2 linked regions of the Homo sapiens genome follow. The protein of the gene in region 1 purifies or fractionates together with the protein of each later gene. This does not show direct contact. Each region holds a gene or a part of one and is shown on either strand. Other genes may lie near its edges. The genes, in order: MITF and RBM6.

What was found.
Region 2: the proteins of MITF (region 1) and RBM6 purify together in Homo sapiens (affinity purification with mass spectrometry; 2 studies listed by BioGRID and IntAct, with this or other methods). This does not show direct contact.

Annotation. Positions count from the first base shown.
Region 1 is NC_000003.12:69,958,048-69,969,851, forward strand, and holds the end of MITF (microphthalmia-associated transcription factor), read left to right. Parts: intron 1-1,225; coding exon 1,226-1,373; intron 1,374-6,799; coding exon 6,800-7,201; 3' UTR 7,202-10,285; downstream 10,286-11,804. UniProt on the Homo sapiens protein: Transcription factor that acts as a master regulator of melanocyte survival and differentiation as well as melanosome biogenesis.
Region 2 is NC_000003.12:49,940,400-49,952,203, forward strand, and holds part of RBM6 (RNA-binding protein 6), read left to right. Parts: intron 1-11,804. UniProt on the Homo sapiens protein: Specifically binds poly(G) RNA homopolymers in vitro.

The sequences.
Region 1 (11,804 bases):
ACCAAACAAAAAAAAAGTTTGAAAACCCTTTCTTAAACTCAGAAGCATAATTGATTGATTGGATCTCACAAGGAAGCAAAACCCAAGATAATTGGTTGAAACAATCACTTCTTTTAAACTGAGTGACCCTTCAAATATCCCAATTCTGATTTCTCTTCTTGCTGGCCTATGTGAAGCATCATTTATTTTAACTACATTTCTCTCTGGCTGCTAAAGTTACTTCTCTTACTTTGATCTTAGCTCTGAATATTAAGTCTCTGCGCTCACTGTGGGTATCTCAGGACATTCCCCTGGGTTGCCATCTTTGGTGTTCAGACCCCAGGGATCAACTCCAGGGAATTCTCTGGGGGCTGGAACTGTCCCTCTTATGGGAGAACTTCTGTGTTGTTCTTCATGTAACCCAGATGAGGATCAATTACTTGGTGACTTGTTTAATGACCCTCCATTCACCGGTTCCACCTGATACTTGTAGATGAGGAAATGGACAAAGAGAGGCTAGATAGCCTGCCCATGATAATCCTTGATTAAAAAAAAAAAAAATAGAAGGATGCTGAGTTTATGCCATAAACAATTTAGTAGTGAGATCTCACAGATCTGTTTTACCATCGTTTATTCTCACTGAGTTAACTTTTGTAGTTTTAGAAACCTATAACTCTTTAACATAGTGTTTAAGGAAACTGACTTTGTAATCAACAGACCTAACTTTAAGTCCTGACTCTGCCATATAGTACTGTGTGGCCTAGGACAAGTTGAATTGTGTCTGTTTCAACATGTGCACAGTCTCTCTCTTACAAGGTGCTTGTCTGGGTTAAGTAAGACAATGTGTACAAACTGGGTGGGCAACACTAGGCACGTGGCAAACACTCGTGAATGGCAGCTATAATTAATGTATGATTATTTTATTTTTAAAATTGAATGCTTTTAAAAATGATACAATGGACTTTGGGGACTTGCGGGGAAGGGAGGGAGGGGGTGGGATGGGGGTGAGGGATAAAAGCCTACACGTTGGGTACAGTGTACACGGCTTGGGTGGTGGGTGTACCAAAATCGCAAAAATCACCACTAAAGAACTTATCCATGTAACCAAGCACCACCTGTTCCCCCAAAACTATTGAAATAAAAAAAAATTTTAAAAAGTTCAAAAAGAAATGGAGTGCTTTGAATATTGAATTTTCATTGAGCCTCAAATCCTAAAAATATCTGTTTTCCTCCATTTTCATCGCAGAGACATGCGCTGGAACAAGGGAACCATCTTAAAAGCATCCGTGGACTATATCCGAAAGTTGCAACGAGAACAGCAACGCGCAAAAGAACTTGAAAACCGACAGAAGAAACTGGAGCACGCCAACCGGCATTTGTTGCTCAGAATACAGGTACGCAGCCTGAGTTGTGTAAAGTTTACTGCTTTTTACCGACTTCAAGACAGTAGAAACAGGGATATAATGAGCCATAGGGGAGTTGACTTACGTGATCCTAACACAGTCAATCCTTATTATTTGTGGATTCTGTGTGTGTGAATTTGCCTACTTGTAACCCCAAAGTCAGTATCTGTGGCACTTCCACAGTCATTCTTGGACATGTGCAGAGTGGCACGTTTGAGCTGCCCATGGCACGCATTTCCAGGTGAGGTCGAATGACCCTGCCTGAGGTTGACTGTCTGCTGTCTTGTTTCAGCTCTCATCCTCTAAACAAGTGCTCCTTTCGTGGTCTGTTGAGTACTTTCTACATTTTTGTGGTTTCTGTTGGTGATTTCGCTGTTTAAAATGACCCCCAAGCATAATGCTAAAGCACTGTCTAGAGTTCCTGAGGGCAAGAAGGCCGTGATGTGCTTACAGAGAAAATACATGTGTTGGATAAGCTTCGTTCAGGCATGAGCTACAGTGCTATTGGCTGTGAGTTTAATATTCATGAGTCAACAACATATATTACATAAGGTGACCTTCAACAGAAACATACATAAAACAAGATTAAGTGTTGTGACTAGGGTCTCACAGGAACCTAACTTGTAATTCCCCTGGGAACAGTGCTTCAGTGTTCACCAATTCAGTGTTCACAGTGACTTTGTAGAACATAAAAAAAATAAGTACTGACTATACCACGTTAAACAAGAAGATGCCTTAGTATTTGTAGGGTCCGGGAAGCAGTTGATGGTCAAAATCTGTGTTTACAGGGAACTTGGGAACACCCAGAGGATCTTATATTAAGGACATAATTCCTGGAGATAGTTATAAATAGTGGAATTATAGCATATATATCTTTAACTTAAACTATACACCATTAGAAGAAGACATACTAATTTTATTAATATGTGCCATTTGTGCGTCATCCTACTCAGTGGGTATATGCACCAGTGTAAGCCGGAGATGGGGAATTCCTCTTTGGTATCAACTCCTGGAACTTCTCTCAGGGGCTTGGCGTCTCTTGTTGAGTGAAAGGGCACTACTTCCTCTGAAATGATCCTCAAAAACAGACTCCCTGTTATGGACCAAAGGGGGTTTGTGAGGGTAATTTTAATTTGCTGACTTTGAACACAACCTATCTGTAAGAGTCAGTGACACCATATCTTCTTCTTGAGTAGGCTGACCCACCTTTTACTAGATTTTGCCATAAAGCAAGGGTTGTCTTTCAACTTTTCCAGTGCAACTATTCATGGAGTTATTTTACGAAACAGCAATGAGAAGTATGACACCCTAGCGACCATTGTGTTTCACCTAGTGGTGCTCCTCCCGGACGTTGAACTTTTCAAACAGAGCAATTCACTTATAATAATGGTCTCCAGTCTTCTGAATGCTTATATTTTGAAATGCCACATCTCTCATTCACTGCAGTGATTCCTCAGCTGTGGGGTGGGGAGGTGGGAAGCCACTTCCCTGTTGGGGTGCATTTTAGATTCTGGGTAGTGAAGTAGAGGTAGTGTGTAATTTGAAAGCCCTCCTTTCCCCTCCCCTCCTCTACTTTGGCTTTTGTTGTTGGTTTTATGTTCTGTCTCTTCAATAAGTAGCTATAGGTATTTAATCTCTCGAACATAGTCTGCCTATTTATAAAAGCAGCTTGTGGGCCGGGCACGTGGCTCACGCCTGTAATCCCAGCACTTTGGGAGGCCAAGGCGGGTGGATCACAAGATCAGGAGTTCAAGACCAGCCTGGCCAAGATGTTGAAGCCCCATCTCTACTAAAAATAGAAAAATTAGCTGGGCATGGTGGCGGGCGCCTGTAATCCCAGCTACTCGTGAGGCTGAGGCAGAGAATCACTTGAACCCGGGAGGCAGAGGTTGCAGTGAGCCAAGATCGCGCCACTGCATTCCAGCCTAGGCGACAGAGTGAGACTCCATCTCAAAAAAAAACAAAAAAATAAAAATAAAAATAAAACCAGCTTGTGGCCGGGTGCGGTGGTTCACGCCTCTAATCCCAGCACTTTGAGAGGCCAAGGTGGGTGGATCACGAGTTCAGGAGTTCGAGACCAGTCTGGCCAACATGGTGAAACCCTGTCTTTACCAAAAATACAAAAAAAAAAAAAGAAAAGAAAAGAAAAGAAAAATTAGCTGGGCATGGTGGTGGATGCCTATAATCCCAGCTACTCATGAGGCTGAGGCAGGAGAACCCGGGAGGCAGAGGTTGCGGTGAGCTGAGATTGTGCCATTGCACTCCAGCCTAGGCTATAGAGCAAGACTCCGTCTCAAAAAACAAACAAAAAAAAGCAGCTTGTACTAATGTGTTGTTTCCTTCTACAAGTATTAAAATGTAATAACTATTTTGAAAGAGAAGCTAGGTTTTGTTTTATTTTAGGGTTCCAAACATGTATATTCATATGAAATACGAATATTGTGAAATATGTGCATTGGAAATTCCATGGTGACGATATCTTGGTTTTCTTCCAGTGACGGTGTGAGGCAGCCTTTAGAACTTTTGCATATCACAGAAAACATTATTAATTAGGAAAGCTCTGTGATGCAATTAAGCCAGAGTTCTCTAGATGAGATTTATCACCTTATTTAGAAATCTGAGTAATGCTTTAATCGCTGATAAATATTTTTAATTAGACAACAAAGGATTAGAGTGAGATGTTTGCCTCTCTTAATCCAACTTTATTATTCTTTTTCTGAAAAGACAATCTGCCTGTGTGGAGGTACTGTTCTTATTAGCATGTTGGTGTAGATTTACAAGAGTCCATGTTTTCAGTATGGGCCTAAGGGCTTTCTTTCATTTTCACTCTAAGTGATGCATGCAAAAGTTTTCACAGAAGAAAGAGCATGAATCCTTTATGTCAGTGGAACTGCCATTTTATTAAATAGCCCAGGGCTTTCAAATGGTGCCTGAAGAAACTTGTGTTTCTGGAGATTATGTAAAGGAACTTGAAGGTACTTGTGTGACATGTCAAGCTCCTGGCTTTTACTCATATTGTATCCAAAGAAGGATTTTGCAGACCCAAAAACCTTGAATTTAGACTGAAACGTGGCTTTGCAGGCACATATGTTTCTCAGCTTGTGGGCAGAGGTTGAGAGGCCATGTCATATGGAGAGTCCTTCCCCTCTCTGATAAGGAAAGGTGACTTGCTTCAAATTTATATTCTCTTGCTATATATTATTGTTTCACAACCGTGGAAGGGATAGCATTGGAATGGAGAAGCAGAATGCTTATCAGGAATCAATTAAAGTCTGTGTGGTTCATTTTAGGAGTGCCCAGGGATACACTCAGAAAGGAAAAAGGGAAAGAGCTTGCTTGGAAGGCATTTTGCAATGAGTTACAGGGGGAATCAAGGGTATTTAGGAAGTGTATTACCCAGCTAGTGCTGCTGTAGTGAAATGCCACTGACTGGGTGGTAAACAAGAGTTATTTTCTCATAATTCTGGAGGCTAGTTGTTGTCCAAGATCAAGTTGTCAGCAGGGTTGGTCCCTTCTGAGGCCTCTCTCCTTGGCTTGTAGATGCCTGTCTTCTCCCTGTGTGTTCACATGGTCTTTTTTCCTGTGTGTGTCTGTCCCAATCTCCTCTTCTTACAAGGACACCAGTCCTATTGGGTTTAGGCCCACTAGTAAAATCTCTTTTTAAATTAATTGCCTCTTTAAAGGCCCTATCTCCAAATACAGTCACATTCCAAGGTACTAAGGTTAGGACTTCAACATTCAAATGTTTTCCAGGACACAATTTAGCCAATAATAGGAATGTATGTGAGGAAGGAAAGGAAAAAAATTGTTCATCTTATAGATGAGAACGTACTTGTTGAGTTAAAAAAATACTTCCCCTTTGCCATGGTGAGATGGGCTAAATGATGCTTCTAAAACTTTAGTTACTGGCATAGAACTTTCACAGCTTTTGCTATCACTACCCAAATTTTTTACTTCATGGCACTCTTAGTGTTTTAGCAATCTTTTTACCATCCCCCTAGACCAAAAGAAATACCTACTCTTTTTGTTAGGTCCGAACAACTTATTAAGTATTTAGGTTCTAACAACTTGGTAGCCATTTGAAAAAATAAAACATATAAATTGAAAGGAAATAGCATTTTTATTTTGTTATTAAATAACCATATTACTTACTAACTGGATGTGTGTGTCTGTTGGGCACTGCACGACTTCTAAAGTCTTGGAATCAGATTGGACACCATCACCCCATCGCCCTTGTTTCCCAGGCCACAATGATGTTCATGTGGCACTTGTTTTCCTTCAATCACAGCAACTGCCAAAAGCTCAACTTTGCAATGATATCATGTGGTTGAAAAGTATATAGCACAGTCTGATGCTAGAAGAGAACTATCTTGAGTTTAGTAGTTCTCAGGTAGTATTGCCATTGCCCTTGAAATGTTAGGCTATCTCCAGTGCTCTGTGAGTTCATTGCAGCACACATGGGGACCTCAGTGCAAAGCTGAAGGACCATGAAAGCTGAAGGACCATGAACTCTTTACTGAATATGTTTCTTTTTTCTTTTCTTTTTTTTTTTTTTTTTTTTTTTGAGATGGTCTTTCACTCTTCTAGCCCAGGCTGGAGCGCAATGGCGCAATCTCGGCTCACTGCAACCTCCACCTCCCAGGTTCAAACGATTCTCCTGCCTCAGCCTCCCAAGTAGCTGGGATTACAGGCATGTGCCACCACACCTGGCTAATTTTTGTATTTTTAGTGGAGACGGGGTTTCAACCATGTTGACCAGGCTGATCTCAAACTCCTGACCTCAGGTGATCCGCCCCCCTCGGCCTCCCAAATAATATTTTTCTTTTATCAGCTCGCATTTAAAACTTTATTTTTGTATTTTTTAACTTATCCTCAGTGTGAACATTAATATCTGTGAGAGACCATCTCTATTTTTCATACATAATCAAATCTATAAAACACCTAAAAATTTATTTCACATACTGCCAGTGGTACTTCTCCTATACTTTAGAACATACAGAGCTCATTAATTTAAAAGAACAAAAAACTTTTATTTTGAGGATTTATTGTTTTCCAAGTATCTGATTTTTAAAAATAGACTTTATTTTTCAGGACAGTTTTTGGTTCACAGTAAAATTGAAATGAAGCTGCAGATATTTCCCATACACCTCATTCCCCCAAGCACGCACAGCCTTCCCCATTATCAACATTCCCTACCAGAGTGGCACATTTATTAGAATCAATGAACCCGCAGTGACATTTCATTATCCTCCAAAGTCTATACTTTACATTCCCTCTGGTATTGTACATTTTGTGGGTTTGGCCAAATGTCTAATGACGCGCATCTACCATTATAGTATCATATAGAGTGGTTTCACAGGCTTAAAAGTCCTCTGTGCTCTGCCTATTTCAGTGTTTTATCTTTACTCTTATTATAGGAACTTGAAATGCAGGCTCGAGCTCATGGACTTTCCCTTATTCCATCCACGGGTCTCTGCTCTCCAGATTTGGTGAATCGGATCATCAAGCAAGAACCCGTTCTTGAGAACTGCAGCCAAGACCTCCTTCAGCATCATGCAGACCTAACCTGTACAACAACTCTCGATCTCACGGATGGCACCATCACCTTCAACAACAACCTCGGAACTGGGACTGAGGCCAACCAAGCCTATAGTGTCCCCACAAAAATGGGATCCAAACTGGAAGACATCCTGATGGACGACACCCTTTCTCCCGTCGGTGTCACTGATCCACTCCTTTCCTCAGTGTCCCCCGGAGCTTCCAAAACAAGCAGCCGGAGGAGCAGTATGAGCATGGAAGAGACGGAGCACACTTGTTAGCGAATCCTCCCTGCACTGCATTCGCACAAACTGCTTCCTTTCTTGATTCGTAGATTTAATAACTTACCTGAAGGGGTTTTCTTGATAATTTTCCTTTAATATGAAATTTTTTTTCATGCTTTATCAATAGCCCAGGATATATTTTATTTTTAGAATTTTGTGAAACAGACTTGTATATTCTATTTTACAACTACAAATGCCTCCAAAGTATTGTACAAATAAGTGTGCAGTATCTGTGAACTGAATTCACCACAGACTTTAGCTTTCTGAGCAAGAGGATTTTGCGTCAGAGAAATGTCTGTCCATTTTTATTCAGGGGAAACTTGATTTGAGATTTTTATGCCTGTGACTTCCTTGGAAATCAAATGTAAAGTTTAATTGAAAGAATGTAAAGCAACCAAAAAGAAAAAAAAAAAGAAAGAAAGAGGAAAAGAAATCCATACTAACCCTTTTCCATTTTATAAATGTATTGATTCATTGGTACTGCCTTAAAGATACAGTACCCCTCTAGCTTTGTTTAGTCTTTATACTGCAAACTATTTAAAGAAATATGTATTCTGTAAAAGAAAAAAAAAATGCGGCCTTTTCATGAGGATCGTCTGGTTAGAAAACATAACTGATACCAACCGAAACTGAAGGGAGTTAGACCAAGGCTCTGAAATATAAAGTCTAATCTTGCTCTCTTTTATTCTGTGCTGTTACAGTTTTCTTCATCAATGAGTGTGATCCAGTTTTTCATAAGATATTTTATTTTGAAATGGAAATTAATGTCCTCTCAAAGTAAAATATTGAGGAGCACTGAAAGTATGTTTTACTTTTTTTTTATTTTATTTTTGCTTTTGATAAGAAAACCGAACTGGGCATATTTCTAATTGGCTTTACTATTTTTATTTTTAAATTATGTTTTACTGTTCATTTGATTTGTACAGATTCTTTATTATCATTGTTCTTTTCAATATATTTGTATTAATTTGTAAGAATATGCATCTTAAAATGGCAAGTTTTCCATATTTTTACAACTCACTGGTGGTTTTCCGCATTCTTTGTACACCCATGAAAGAAAACTTTTATGCAAGGTCTTGCATTTAAAAGACAGCTTTGCGAATATTTTGTAAATTACAGTCTCACTCAGAACTGTTTTTGGACACATTTAAGGTGTAGTATTAATAGGTTAAAACCAGGCTTTCTAGAAAGAATAAACTTACATATTTATTTTTAGGACATGAAAATAGCAATATTCTTGGAGATTGATAACCATAGCATTAATACGCCCATTATGGTCATTTAAATTGGGGTTTATTTCAGCAAACTTGTTGAATTTATTTTTAAGAAAGAAATACTGTATTGGGAAGTTACTGTTACTTGATAACAATGTTTTAACAAGAAGCAATGTTATAAAGTTAGTTTCAGTGCATTATCTACTTGTGTAGTCCTATGCAATAACAGTAGTGTTACATGTATCAAGCCTAGATGTTTTATACAGATGCCATATAGTGTTATGAGCCAGGCTGTTGAATGGAATTTCTCAGTAGCAGCCTACAACTGAATAGCAAGTGGCATAAAGCATATCCATTCAGAATGAAGTGCCTTAAATATAGCAGTAGTCTTTTTTGGACTAGCACTGACTGAACTGTAATGTAGGGGAAAGTTTCATGATGGTATCTATAGTCAAGACGAACATGTAGCATGGTGCCTATGTAGACAATATAAGAGCTTCCAATTTTCCTTCAGATATTTTTAATATTAAATATATTTTAGTGACAGAGTGCCAACTTCTTTCATCAGGAAACCTTATTCAGGAGGGTTTTTAAAAAGTGTTTAAATGTCAAATGTGAATTGGTGATGGGTGATGGAGGGTTCAGAGAGGAGTGATCGTCAGATGTGTGAATGGACGGTTTAGGTGAAAATAATCAACTGCATAGTTCCCATGCACGCTGGGCAATGAGAATCCTTGGAAACATTGGTGATGCTATCAGTTTTATAGCTTTATTTCTTAAGGGGGTAGGGAAAATTAGTTCCCATTCTTTCAACCCCCTTAACTGTATAGCTCTTTTCCTAGAATAGTGACGCAAATCTGCATGAACAGCTAATTGTACCATAGTGTTCATTGATACAATCATAGCATTGTCTATTTTTCTCTTCATATTTATATGGGGGGGAGGGCGCTGGATGCAAAAGTTGAAGATCGTGATGCTATGATGTTAGTTTTCCTTAGCTGATTTTGAGGGTTTTTAAAAATAAAGCAAGGTTGACTAACCTACGGCCACGGGAACAGGACCATGGTTAAGCAACCATATAGAAAGCTTTGTTGAAAGAAAGTATGGCATCTTGTACCACTGCCCTGACTGTCACAACTCCTAACCTTGCCATTGCCTGCCTCCCCCTCCCCTTCTCCTTAAGAGACAATTTCTGCAGGTGGCAGGTGAGCAAGCCCAGGAGAATGCTGCAATCTTGGGGGTGGTTTTATTTATTTCTTTTTTGCCAAATAGAGTGTGGATTCATTTCAGGGGCTAGCTAAGCCAAGAGGCAGTGGTTTGGGCTTGTTGTTTGTAACAAGAAAATGATCCACACCACTCCCCCGATTCCCGGGTGCAGAATTGTAACTCGGGGTTGGGCCTCTATATGGAGTGACCAAAATGCCAAAATTGTCCATCTGCCTCTGAGTAGGGCAATGGAAATACCAAACCTTCTGACTTTGCCAAAAAGCATACAAGCAACCTGGTCATACATAGGATGACAAAATTCTTTCTGGTTGTTTTTAAACAATAAAGCAATAAGAACAAATACAATACATAGGAAGTTAAAAGCACAAAGGAATGAACTTATTAATATTTTTGAAAAATGCACTGGGAAAAAGTTGATGTCAATAACAGTATAAAACAGCCCTATTTCTTGATAAAAAATGACAAATGACTGTCTCTTGCGGATGCTTGGTACTGTAATGTTAATAATAGTCACCTGCTGTTGGATGCAGCAATAATTTCTGTATGGTCCATAGCACTGTATATTATGGATCGATATTAATGTATCCAATGAAATAATCGACTTGTTCTTGATAGCCTCATTAAAGCATTTGGTTTTTCACATAGTGGTGGCCTATTGTGTTAATGCCAATTTTGAATGCTATCTGCCATATCAAAAAATGGTAGTGCACATTTTCTTCTGATTTAATGAATAACAAATTGCATGAAAATTTAGAAAATGCCAGTAAGTACTTTTTTTGTTTAAAATGCCACTCTAAGATGTTACTTTTTGGTTTTAAACATTTTTGATTACTTTTTGACTTACACTCAGATGAGGTGTAATTATGCACCTTTTTTATCCCCCTCTGAATTTGGGGAGATTTTAAACTCCCAAATGCCAAGACTTCATTTTAGATATAGGAGTTTTATTTAAAATGTTTCATTGAGAGGTGGCTTTAAAAAAGAGAAATTGTCAGAGAAACCCTTGCATATTTACAGAAAAGATATTGGGTTTTTAAAATACAAATTTACAATAATGAAAGCTTAATATACCCAGGCTGCCAGCTCCTGGTTGCCTTTTTTTTTTAATACACTACTTAAGAATCATTTGATAAATGTTGGATTTGAATTGGGAAGTGTCAGACAAAACATGTCTTTATTCCCTAGCTAGACCTTAAACTTCTGCCCTTTTAAAAAATATATTCTGGCTTAACCTCTGGAGAAAATGAGCAAGAAACTTCCTGTAATGCTTCTGATCTGACTGTCAGCTTTTTCCTACTTTTAATTTTCTTCTTAAATTGTAATATACAATAATCAAGGCCTTTCTTTTTTAGACCTATTTGAATTATTTATATTTTCCCTAGAAGTATAACTGTAGGATCCCTTAAAAACATGTAAAAGTAGAAAGATTTCCTTTTGGAACAAGAGAGAATATTCTGGGCAAAATCAAAAGCAAGTAAGTTGAAAATTGGGGCTTTTCATCTCCGGGGGATCTGCAGCAATACCTTCACCCACATTTCTGTCCTGATATTTACCAGTAAATAGTCATTTCACAGCCCATAAGAATCCTTCATCTTTAGCTTCCCCCACTTACACACAGACACACACACACACACACACACACACACACACACAATTAACGTGTTATAGTGGTGTTACCTGAAGATTAGACATTTGCCTACAGTGTGTATGACTTCATTTGATATCCACAGAGTTACATTTCTTAAAATTTTATTAAGCCAATTCACTTTCAAATAAATTATATCCGTTCAATCACCACACATGACCTCTCAGTTAATCTTCCTGGGTTTGAATCTTATCTCTGCCCATGTCTAGCTCTATGATTTTGCGCAAGTTATTTGGCCTCCCTGTGCCTCAAAAGTAGCTACCACATAGTGGTCTTGTGAAGACCATTCGAGTTAATAATACTAGAATTTGTGCTTGACAGCACATAGTAAATGCTTAGTAAATGATAGCTTTTCTTATAATAATCACCTTCATTACTAAAATGGAAAATACTTTCTGGACCAACTAAAATCATCATATGTATTAGCAGTGACATGCACACCACATTTGGCAAAGCACTGAATTACAACATAGATTGAAGACATGTGTAAACTGGCCAGGGGACAGAAGCCACA
Region 2 (11,804 bases), about 20 Mb from region 1:
CGCCGCCCGTGGCAGGAACGCCCCGGAACCGTCGCGGGCCTGGGGCGGGGCCCGGCGCGGCAGTAGATTACCGGTCCCGCCGCGGAGCGGCCAGCTGTGAGGCTGGGGCCGGCGCGTGGTTGCGGCTCTGTGCTCCTACTCTTCGGAGCTGTAAGCGGGCTGTTCTTGCGGTTTTCCTGTTTCAGATCCAATTCTGTGGCATCACTAGGAAGGGAGCTCTTGTGCTTAGCACGTAGCCTCGTCCTCAGACTTGGACAGACACAAGGGAGGCTCCGCTGGACCGGAGGGCACAAGAGCTCCGAGCCCGGTCGTCGGGGCGGTAGAACCTGGAAGCGGGAGAGTGGTCTGGTGGGTTCTGCGCCCGTTAGGCAATGAAGGAGAAGGATGTTTTATCGTATTCACGCTTTAGATTCCATTAGCGGTGTAAATAGATGTTTTTCTCTTTATTTTAGAATTGACGTTAGGCGAATGGGTTCAACTTTGGGAATGCCTTTTTTTTTTTTTTTTTTTTGAAGGAAGGGCCCTGTTTCGTAGGGTACATAAACCGTGAGCGTAATTGTATTTTTTGCATATTCCAGGTTTGCTTGTGAAGGTCAGAGTAGCCGGATTTAAGTGAAGGAGTTCAGTAGACATGCAGACATGGTCACCTGGTTCATTTTCTGAACCCTGGATTGTGCCCTCGGCTTGCTAGTTTCCACCTTCCTATTGAGAAATGCCACCAGCGTGAATGATTTAAATATGTCACCATTACTGAATTTGTGAGGTCTCTAACGAGAGGTGTCAAGAGCTGGTGCGTGATGGTAGGACTGGCAGTGAAGAAAGTAACTAAATAATATGTTACCATTTTGGTGAAACACAAAAGTTGAATTTGAACCTTGTCTCAGAAACTAGCATCTAACTAGATACCTAACCTGCAGGACAGGTCCCAGGTCTCTCTGGATAGTTGTAGCACCTTTCCTTATAGAATTCTATTACCAGGCCGAGCCTGGTGGCTCACACCTGTAATCCCAGCACTTTGGGAGGCTGAGGTGGGGAGTTCGAGACCAGCCTGACTAACATGGAGAAACCGCGTCTCTACTAAAAGTACAAAATTAGCCGGGCATGGTGGCACATGCCTGTAATCCCAGCTACTTGGGAGGCTGAGGCAGGAGAATCGCTTGAACCTGGGAGGCGGAGGTTGCGGTGAGCTGAGATTGCTCCATTGCACTCCAGCCTGGGCCACAAGAGTGAAACTCTGTCTCAAAAAAAAAAAAAAAAAAAAAAAAAAAAAACCCGCAAAACTCAACAAAAACCAACATAGTAGAGGCAGCGTTTCGCCTTATGCCCAGCTAATTTTTTGTATTTTTTTAGTAGAGGCGGAGTTTCGCTATGTTGGCCAGGCTGGTCTTGAACTACTGACCTCAGGTGATCCACCTGCCTTGGCCTCCCAAAGTGCTGGGATTACAGGCGTGAGCCACCGTGCCCGGCCCTGTTATAGTATTTCTAAAACAAATTGTGAGCCTGGGCAACATCGCAAAACCCTGTCTCTACAAAAAATACAAAAAAAAAAAATTAGCCAGGCGTGGTGGCATGCTCCTGTTAGCCCTAACTACTCAGGAGGCTGAGATGGAAAAATCGCTTGAGCCGGGGAGGTAGAGGTTGTAGTAAGGGGAGATAGTGCCACTGCACTCCAACCTGGGCCACAGAACAAGACTGTCTCAAAAAAAAAAAAATCAATTAAATAAATTGTGGTAAATATATATTTTTATGTATGTTTATGTATATTTTAACAAAATTTGCTCTTTAAACCATTGTTAAGTATACAATTCAGCCAGGCACGGTGGCTCACGCCTGTAATCCCAGCACTTTGGGACGCCGAGGTGGGCGGATCACGAGGTCAGGAGATCGAGACCATCCTGGCTAACACGGTGAAACCCCATCTCTACTAAAAATACAAAAAATGAGCCGTGCGTGGTGGTGGGCGCCTGTAGTCCCAGGTACTCAGGAGGCTGAGGCAGGAGAATGGTGTGAACCCGAGAGGCGGAGCTTGCAGTGAGCCGAGATTGCGCCACTGCACTCCAGCCTGGGCAACAGAGCGAGACTCCGAGACTCCATCTCAAAAAAAAAAAAAAAAAGTATACAATTCAATGGTATTAATTACATTCACAATGTAGTACAAGCAATACCACTATTTCTGAAACTTTAGTATCTCAAACAGAAACTCTGTAACCAGGGAGGGCATGGTGGCTCACGCCTGTAATCCCAGCACTTTGGGAGGTCAACGTGGGCAGATCACTTGAGTTCAGGAGTTCAAGAACAGCCTGGCCAACATGGTGAAACCCCGTATCTACTAAAAATACAAAAATTAGCCATGCATGGTGGCATGCATCTGTAACACCAGCTACTAAGGAGGCAGAGGTTGCAGTGAGCTGAGGTCATGCCATTGCACTTCAGCCTGGGCTGCACAGCCAGACTCCATCTCAAAAAAAAAGAAAAAAAGAAACTGTAACCATTAAACAAGTTAACTTCCCATTTCCTCCTCTTAATCTCTAATCTACTTTGTGTCTGTCTGTGAGTGTGCTTGTTCTAGGTACTGCAAATACTAAATGGAATCATACAGTATTGTCCTTTTTTGTGTCTGGTTTATTTCACTTAGTGTAATGGTTTCAAGGTTGATCCATGTTGTACTGTGTATCAGAATTTCATTCCTTTTTAAGGCTTAATCCGTTGTGTGTGTACACTACATTTTGTTTATTAATTCATTTGTAGCAGACACTTGGGTTGCTTCTGCCTTTTGACTATTGTAAATAATGATGCTGTGATCATTGGTGTACAAATATCTCTTTGAGTCCCTGCTTTGAATTCTTTTGGGTATATACCCAGAAGGGAAATTGCTATATGGTAATTATTATTATTATTAATTATTTTATTTATTTTTTTTTGAGACAGGGTCTTGCTCTGTTGCCCAGGCTGGAGTTCAGTGGCACAGTCATGGCTCACTGCAGCCTCGAACTCGAGCTCAAGCAGTCATCCCGCCTCAGCTTCCTGAGTAGCTGGGACTACAGGCATGGGCTGCCACAACCAGCTAATTTTTTTGTTTAATTTTTATTTTTTGTGATGAAGTCTTGCCTTGTTGTCTAGGGTGGTCTCGAACTCCTGAGTTCAAGTGATCCTCCTGTCTTGGCCTCCCGAAGTGCTGGCATTACAGGCATGAGCCACCACATCTGGCCCATAATTTTTTTATTTTAATTTTTTTGTGGAGACAGGGTCTCCCTATGTTGCCTATGCTGGTCTCAAACTCCTGGCCTCAAGCCATTTTCCCTCCTTGGCCTCTCAAGGTACTGGTATTACAGGCATGAGCCACTGCACCCAGTTGATACTTGGTTATTATATGTTTAGCTTTTTGAGGACCCACCATACTGTTTTCCTCAATGGCTGCATCGTTTTACATTCCCACCAGTAATACACAAGGGTTCCAATTTTCCCACATCCTCCCCAACACTTATTTTCTGTTTTTCCTTTTTTGATAAATTTGTGTGTGTATATGTGGTTTTTTATTTGTGTGTTTTGATGATAGCCACCCTAATGGGTGTGAAGTGGTATCTCGTTGTGTTTTCTTGGTTTTTGCTTGTTTGTACCTTTTTACCCATTTTTAAGTGTGCTACTTAGTAGTAGTAAGTACATTCTTCTTTTTGTGCAACCATAATAAAAATCCAGCTTCAGAACTTTTTTCATCTTCCCAAACTGAGTTTCTGTACCCATTGAATAGTAACTCCCTATTCTCTCCTCCCCTGACAATCACCATTCTGCTTTCTGTCTCTATGAATTTGACTACTCTAGGTATCTCATGTAAGTGGAATCATATAATATTTGATCTTTTGTGTATGGCTTATTTTACTTAGCATAATATCTTCAGGATTCATCCATCTTGTAGTATGTATCAGAATTTTATTCCTTTTTAAGGCTGAGTAATATTCCATTATACATATATACCACATTTTGTTTATCCATTTATCTATTGATGGACATTTGGGTTGTTTCCACCTTTTTGCTCTTGTGAATATAATGGTGCTATGAATATCAGTGTACAAATATCTTTTTTTTTTTTTTTTTTGTGAGACAGTATCGCTCTTGTCACCCAGGCTGGAGTGCAGTGGCGCGACCTTGGCTCACTGCAACCTCTGCCTCCTGGGTTCAAGGCATTCTCCTGCCTCAGCCTCCCGAGTAGCTGGGATTACAGATGTGCGCCACCATGCCTAGCTAATTTTTTTATTTTTAGTAGAGAAGGAGTTTCGCCATGTTGGGCAGGCTGGTCTTGAACTTCTGACCTCAGGTGATCAACCTGCCTCGGCCTCCCAAAGTGGTGGAATTACAGGTGTCAGCCACCGCGCCCAGCCACAAATATCAAGTCTTTACTTTCATTTCTTTTGGGAATATATATACTCAGAAATGGAATCGACAATTGACAGAGCAAATGGTAATTCTATGTGTAATTTTTTTTTAAATTTTTTTTTTTGAGACGGATTCTTGCTCTGTCGCCCAGGCTGGAGTGCAGTGGCGTGATCTCGGCTCACTCCAAGCTCCGCCTCCTGGGTTCTTGCCATTCTCCTGCCTCAGCCTCCCGAGTAGCTGGGACTACAGCATCCGCCACCACGCCCGGCTAATTTTTTGTATTTTTAGTAGAGACGGGGTTTCACCGTGTTAGCCAGGATAGTCTCCATCTCCTGACCTCATGATCTGCCCGCCTTGGCCTCCCAAAGTGCTGGGATTACAGGCGTGAGCCACCGCGCCCGGCCAATTTTTTTTTTTTTTTTTTTTAGACAGGGTCTTGCTCTGTTGTCCAGGCTGGAGTGCAGTGGTGCAGTCACAGTTCTCTGCAGCCCTGACCTTCTCAGTTCAAGCTATCCTCTCACCTCACCCTCTTAAGTAGCTGAGACTACAGGTGCATGCCACCATGCCTAACTAATTTTTTTATTTTTTTGTAGCTGTGGGATTTCGCTAGGTTGCCCAGGCTTTATGTATCATTTTTTGAGGAACTGCCTTACTGTTTTCCACACTGGTTGCACCATTTTACATTCTGTTAGCAGTGTACAAAGGTTTTGTTATAGACTGAATTGTGTCCCCCTGAAAATTCACGTGTTGAAGCCCTAAGCCCCAGTGTGACTGTATTTGGAAATAGGACCTTTACAGAGAAATTAAAAAGTTAGAAGATATCATAAGGGGCTGGGCGCGGGTGGCTCATGCCTGTAATCCCAGCACTTTGGGAGGCTGAGGCAGGCGGATCACAAGGTCAGGAGATCGAGACCATCCTGGCCAACACGGTGAAACCCCGTCTCTACTAAAAATACAAAACATTAACCGGGCGTGGCGGCATGCACCTGTAGTCCCAGCTGCTGGGGAGGCTGGGGCAGGAGAATGGCGTGAACCCGGGAGGCACAGCTTGCAGTGAGCCAAAATCGCGCCACTGCACTCCAGCCTGGGCGACAGAGCGAGACTCCATCTCAAAAAAAAAAAAAAAAAAAAAAAAAGAAGATATAAGGATGAGACCTTAATCCAGCAGGACTGCTGTCTTCGTAAGAAAAGGACTGGATACCAGGAGTGCGTGTACAGAGAGAAAAAGCTGCATGAGGACAGAGGTAGAAGGGGGCTGCCTGCAAGCCAAGGAGAGAGACCTCACCTAAAACAAACCTTGCTGACACCTTGATCTTGGACTCCCAGCCTCCAGAGCTGTGAGAATAATTTCTGTGGCTTAAGCCTTCCACTCCATGGTATTTTGTTATGGCAGTCCTAGCATACTGTGTAATATAGGTTTCAATTCAGTTTCTCTGCATCCTCCACATCCTGGCCAACACTTGTTATTTTCTTTCTTTTTTTTTTTTGGAGACAGATTCTCGCTCTGTCACGCAGGCTGGAGTGCAGTGGCACAATCTTGGCTCACTGCAACCTCCACCTCCCGGGTTCAAGCGATTCTCCTGCCTCAGCCTCCCGAGTAACTGGGATTACAGGCAGCCGCCACCGTGCCCAGCTAATTTTTGCATTTTAGTTGAGATGGTGTTTCTCCATGTTGGCCAGGCTGGTCTTGAACTCCTGACGTCAGGTGACCCGCCAGCCTTGGCCTCCCAAAGTGTTGGGATTATAAGCATGAGCCACCGCGCCTGGCATTTTCTTTTTTTTTGAGACAGAGTCTCACTCTGTTGCCCAGGCCGGAGTGAAGTGGCATGATCTCGGCTCACTGCAACCTCTGCCTCCCAGATTGAAGCAATTCTTGTGCCTCAGCCTCCCGGGTAGCTGGGATTACAGGCGTGTGCCACCACGCCTGGCTAATTTTTGTATTTTAGTAGAGACAGGGTTTCACCATATTAGCCAGGCTGGTCTTGAACTCCTGACCTCAAGTGATCTGTCCACCTTGGCCTCCCAAGGTGCTGGGATTACAGGTGTGAGCCATCTCACCCGGCCTATTTTCTGTTTCGTTTTTTTTTTTTTCATTAGTAGCTATCCTAGTGGATGTGAAGTGGTATCTTATTGTGGTTTCTGATTTGCATTTCCCTGATGATAAGTGATGTTGAGCGTCTGTTCATGTTCTTATTGGCTATTTGCATATTCTCTTTTGGAGAAGTATCTATTCATGTCTTTTGTTGACCATTTTAAAATGGGGTTTTTCATCCTGGCTAACACGGTGAAACCCTGTCTCTACTAAAAATACAAAAAAAAAAAAAAAAAAAAATTAGCCGGGCGCAGTGGCAGGCGCCTGTAGTCCCAGCTACTCGGGAGGCTGAGGCAGAAGGATGGTGTGAACCTGGGAGGCAGAGCTCGCAGTGAGCAGAGATTGAGCCACTGCACTCCAGCCTGGGCGACAGAGCGAGACTCCGTCTCAAAAAAAAAAAGGGGGGGGGGGGGGGTTTTGAGCTGGGTGTGCAGGTGCACACCTGTATTCCCAGCTGCTCAGGAGGCTGAGGTAGGTGGATCTCTTGAGCCCAGGTGTTTGAGGGTGCAGTGAGCTGTGATTGCACCACTGGACTCTACCCTGGGTGACAGAGTGGCCCAGTCTCTAAAAATAAAATAAAATTAGGTTTTTGTCTGTGTTGTTGAGTTTTAGGAGTCCTTTATACACTCTAGATATTAATTCCTTGTCAGATATTTGACTTACAAATATTTTCTCTCTGTGGTTGTCTTTATACTCTGTTGATAGTGTCTTTTGATGCACAGAGGTTTTCATTTTGATGAAGTCCAATTTATCTTCTTTTTTTAAAATCTGTGCCTCATCTGCAAATATTACCAATCGAAAGTCATGAAATTTTTCCCCTAAGATTTTATAGTTTTAGCGCTTACGTTTGGGTCTTTGATCCAATTTGAGTTAATTTTTTATATATTTTTGTTGTGTAAGAGTCCCACTTTATTGTTATGCATGTGGATATTCAGTTTTCGGAGTACCATTTTCCATTTGGGAAAAAGATTGTACTTTCCCCATTGGATGGTCTTGACACCTTTGTTGAAAATCAGTTGACTAAAGTTCAAGACTAGCCTTGCCAACATGGCAATATCCCGTCTGTACTAAAAATACCACAATTAGCTGGGCATGGTGGTGCCTGGCTGTAATCCCAGCTACTCGGGAGGCTGAGGCAGGAGAATCGCTTGAACTGGGAGGTGGAGGCTGCAGTGAGCTGAGATTGCGCCACTGCCCTCCAGCCTGGGCGACAGAGCGAGACATGAGAATCTGTCTTAAAAAAAAAAGAAAATTGACCATATATGTGAGGATTTATTTCTGGTCTCTCCATTCAGTTGATTGGTCTTTATGTCTATCTTTATGTCCTTACTGCACTGTTGTGATGGCTGTAGCTAAATGGTACACTTAAAAATGGTTAAAATAGGCCAGGCACGGTGGCTCACGCCTATAATCTTAGCACTTTAGGAGGCTGAGGTGGGCAGATTGCCTGTGCTCAGGGGTTCGAGACCAGCCTAGGCAACATAGTGAAACCCCGATTTTACTAAAATACAAAAATTAGCTGGGTGTGGTGTGTGCCTGTAATTCCAGCTACTCAGGAGGCTAAGGCACAAGAATTGCTTGAGGCCTGGTGCTGTGGCTCACGCCTGTAATCCCAGCACTTTGGGAGGCCGAGGCAGGTCAAGAGATCGAGACCATCCTGGCCAATGTCATGAAACCTAGTCTCTACTAAAAATACAAAAAATTAGCTGGGTGTGGTGGCGCGCACCTAGTCCCAGCTACTTGGGAGGCTGAGGCAGGAGGATCACTTGAACCCAGGAGGTGGAGGTTGCAGTGAGCCAAGATTGCGCCACTGCACTCTAGATTGGCAGCAGAGTGAGACTCTGTCTCAAAAAAGAAAAAAAAAAAAAAGAATTGCTTGAACCCAGGAGGTAGAGGTTGCAGTGAGCTGAGATTGCACCCTGCACTCCAGCCTGGGCAACAGAGTGAGACTATTTACATACCCAATTTTTTTTTTTTTTTTTTTTTGGGATGGTGTCTTGCACTGTCGCCCAGGCTGGAGTGCTGTGGCGTGATCTTGGCTCACTGCAACCTCTGCCTCCTGGGTTCAAGCAATTCTCCTGCCTCAGGCTCTCAAGTAGCTGGGTTACAGGTACCTGCCACCACGCCTGGCTAATTTCTTGTATTTTTAGTAGAGATGGAGTTTCACTATATTGGCCAGGCTGGTCTCAAATTTCTGACCTTGTGATCCGCTGGCCTCAGCCTCCCAAAGTGCTGGGACTACAGGTGTGAGCCACCACGCCTGGTCATACCCAAATATTTTACCATAATTATACAAGAATTTATTATTTTTATTTTTTTCTTTTTAAATTCTTTAATCTTCTTCATTTGTTAATGCTTTGCTGAATCATAAAAAATTATGAAATAAAAAGAATAGGTCTTGTTGATTCTTCTTTTTACTTACCTCCCCCTACTTACCCCCTCTTACTTTATCAAAGAAAACACTTCATTTGAAACTTAACGGAAGTACATTCTCCCAGAGAGGAAAATCCTTCAGGACAACATTTTTTTTTGTTTGCTTGTTTTTTTTGAGACGGAGTCTCACTCTGTCCCCGAGGCTGGAGTGCAGTGGTGTGATCGCAGCTCATTGCAACCTCTGCCTCCCGGGTTCAAGCGATTCTCCTGCCTCAGCCTCCCGAGTAGCTGGGACTACAGGCGCCTGTCACCATGCCCTGCTAATTTCTGTATTTTTAGTAGAAACAGTTGGCCAGGATGGTTTCAATCTTATGACTTTGTGATCTGACCACTTTGGCCTCCCAAAGTGCTGGGAATACAGGCGTGAGCCACAGTGCTCAGCCAATTTTTTGTATTTTTAGTGGAGAAAAGGTTTCACCGTCTTTGCCAGGATGGTCTTGATCTCCTGACCTCGTGATCCGCCCGCCTCCCAAAGTGCTGGGATTACAGGCCTGAGCTACCACGCCCAGCCTTTTTATTTTTTTATTTTATTTATTTTATTCTCAGCCTTCTGGGTAACTGGGACTACAGGTGTATACCACCACGCTCAGCTAATTTATGTATTTTTAGTAGAAATGGGGTTTCGCCATATTGGCCAGGCTGGTTTTGAATTCCTGGTCTCAAGTGATCTGCCTGCCTCCGCCTCCTAAAGTGCTGAGATTACAGGCATGAGCCACTGGCCCAGACTACACTTAAAATTTTCAAATCGAGATATTTTGGGGGGCAAGGGTGCTTCTAGCAGCCACTAATTCCAGTTCTTGAGTGCATATTAAAGTTGCTACTGTTTAAAAGCTTGTAGTTGGATCCAGGGAGTGGGTAGGCGGTCAGAGTAACCCTTGCTTCTTGGTGTCTCCTTGATGCTCTTAGCTGAATGTCCTGTGTAGCCCACAACATTTACTTTGGGAAAAAATTAAGAGTGTTTAAAGCAGGATCAAGCTGCTGCATACCACAGCTAAAACTACTAGAATAAGACCCCTGGTTCTGTTTCATTGTTTTTTGGAGCTAAAGTCATGATTAAGAAGGATGGCCTGGGATATTGGTACTGTGCTGCTAGAGGTGCAATTCCTGGTTCTTTGCAAGATAGACCAGAGTGAAAGCATTTGTTAGGAATGTTTTTATTAATCAAGAGTGAAAGGCAAGGCCAGGCGTGGTGACTCAGGCTTGTAATCCCAGCACTTTGGGAGGCCAAGGTGTGGGATCATTTGAGGTCAGGAGTTCAAGACCAGCCTGGCCAACATGGTGAAACCCCGTCTCTACTAAAAATACAAAAATTGGCTGGGTGTGGTGGTGCATGCCTGTAATCCCAGCTACTCGGGAGACTGAGGCAGGAGAATCGCTTGAATCCGGGAGACGGAGGTTGCAGTAAGCTGAGATCATGTCACTGTGGTACAGTCTGGGTGACAGAGGGAGACTGTTTCAAAAAAAAAAAACAGAAAGAATGAAAGGCAAAACATTAAAAATAGAATTACCATGTGATCTAACAATTTTACTTCTGGATATATATCCAAAATAATTGAAAACAAAGAAAAAGAAAAACAGAGTCTCGATGAGATATTTGTACCCATGTTCATAACAGCGTTATTCACATTAGCTAAAATGTGGAAGCAACCCAACTATTCATTGATGGATGAATAGATAAGGAAAATGTGGTATGTACATATAACTGAAAAATTATTCAGTGTTAGGAAGGAAGGTAATTCTGACATATGCTACAACATGGATGAACCTTGAGGATATTATGCTAAGTGAAATAAGCCAGTCATGTAAAAGACAAATACCATATAATTTCACTTAGACACTTTGAGTAGTGAAAATCATAGAAACAGAAAATAGTTGTCAGGGATGGTGTGAGGGATGAATCAGCAGTTACTATTTCTTTTTGTTTGTTTGTTTTTTGAGATGGGGTCTTGCTCTGTTGCCCAGGCTGGAGTACAGTGGTGTGATCTTGGCTCACTGCAACCTCTGCCTCCCAGGCACAAGCCATCTTCCCACCTCAGCGTCCTCAGTAGCTGGGACTACAGATGTGTTCCACCTTGTCCGGCTGATTTGTGTGTGTGTATATGTGTGTGTGTGTGTGGAGACAAGGTTTTGCCATGTTGCCCAGGCTGGTCTCGAACTCCTGAGCTCAAGCATCAAGCAATCTACCTTTTTCAGCTTTCCAAAGTGCTGGCATTACAGACAAGGGCCACTGTGCCTGGCCTTTACTATATTTTATTTTATTTATTATTTATTTATTTATTTATTTATGTATTTTGAGATGAAGTCTCACTCTGTTGCCCAGGCTGGAGTGCAGTGGCACGATCTTGGCTCACTGCATCCTCTGCCTCCCAAGTTCAAGTGATTCTCCTGCCTCAGCCTCCAGTTATTATTATTATTATTATTATTTTTTTGTTGTTCTGTTTTTTTGAGGTGGAGTCTCGCCCTGTCGCCCAGGCTGGAGTGCAGTGGCACAAACTCGGCTCACTGCAACCTCCATCTCCCAGGTTCAAGTGATTCTTCTGCCTCAACCTCCCAAGTAGCTGGGAATACAGGTGCCCGCCACCACGCCTGGCTAATTTTTGTATTTTTAGTAGAGACGGGGTTTCACCACATTGGTCAGGCTGGTCTTGATCTCCTGATCTTGTGGTCCACCTGCCTCGGCCTCCCAAAGTGCTGGGATTATAGGTGTGAGCCCCCATGCCCTGCCTTGTTATTATTATTATTTTTATTTTTTTGTCTGAGACGGAGTCTTGCTCTGTCACCCAGGCTAGAATGCAGTGGCACGATCTTGGCTTAGTACAACCTCTGCCTCCCGAGTTCAAGTGATTCTCCTGCCTCAGCCTCCCGAGTATATAGGACTACAGGTGTGTGCCACCATGGCTAATTTTTG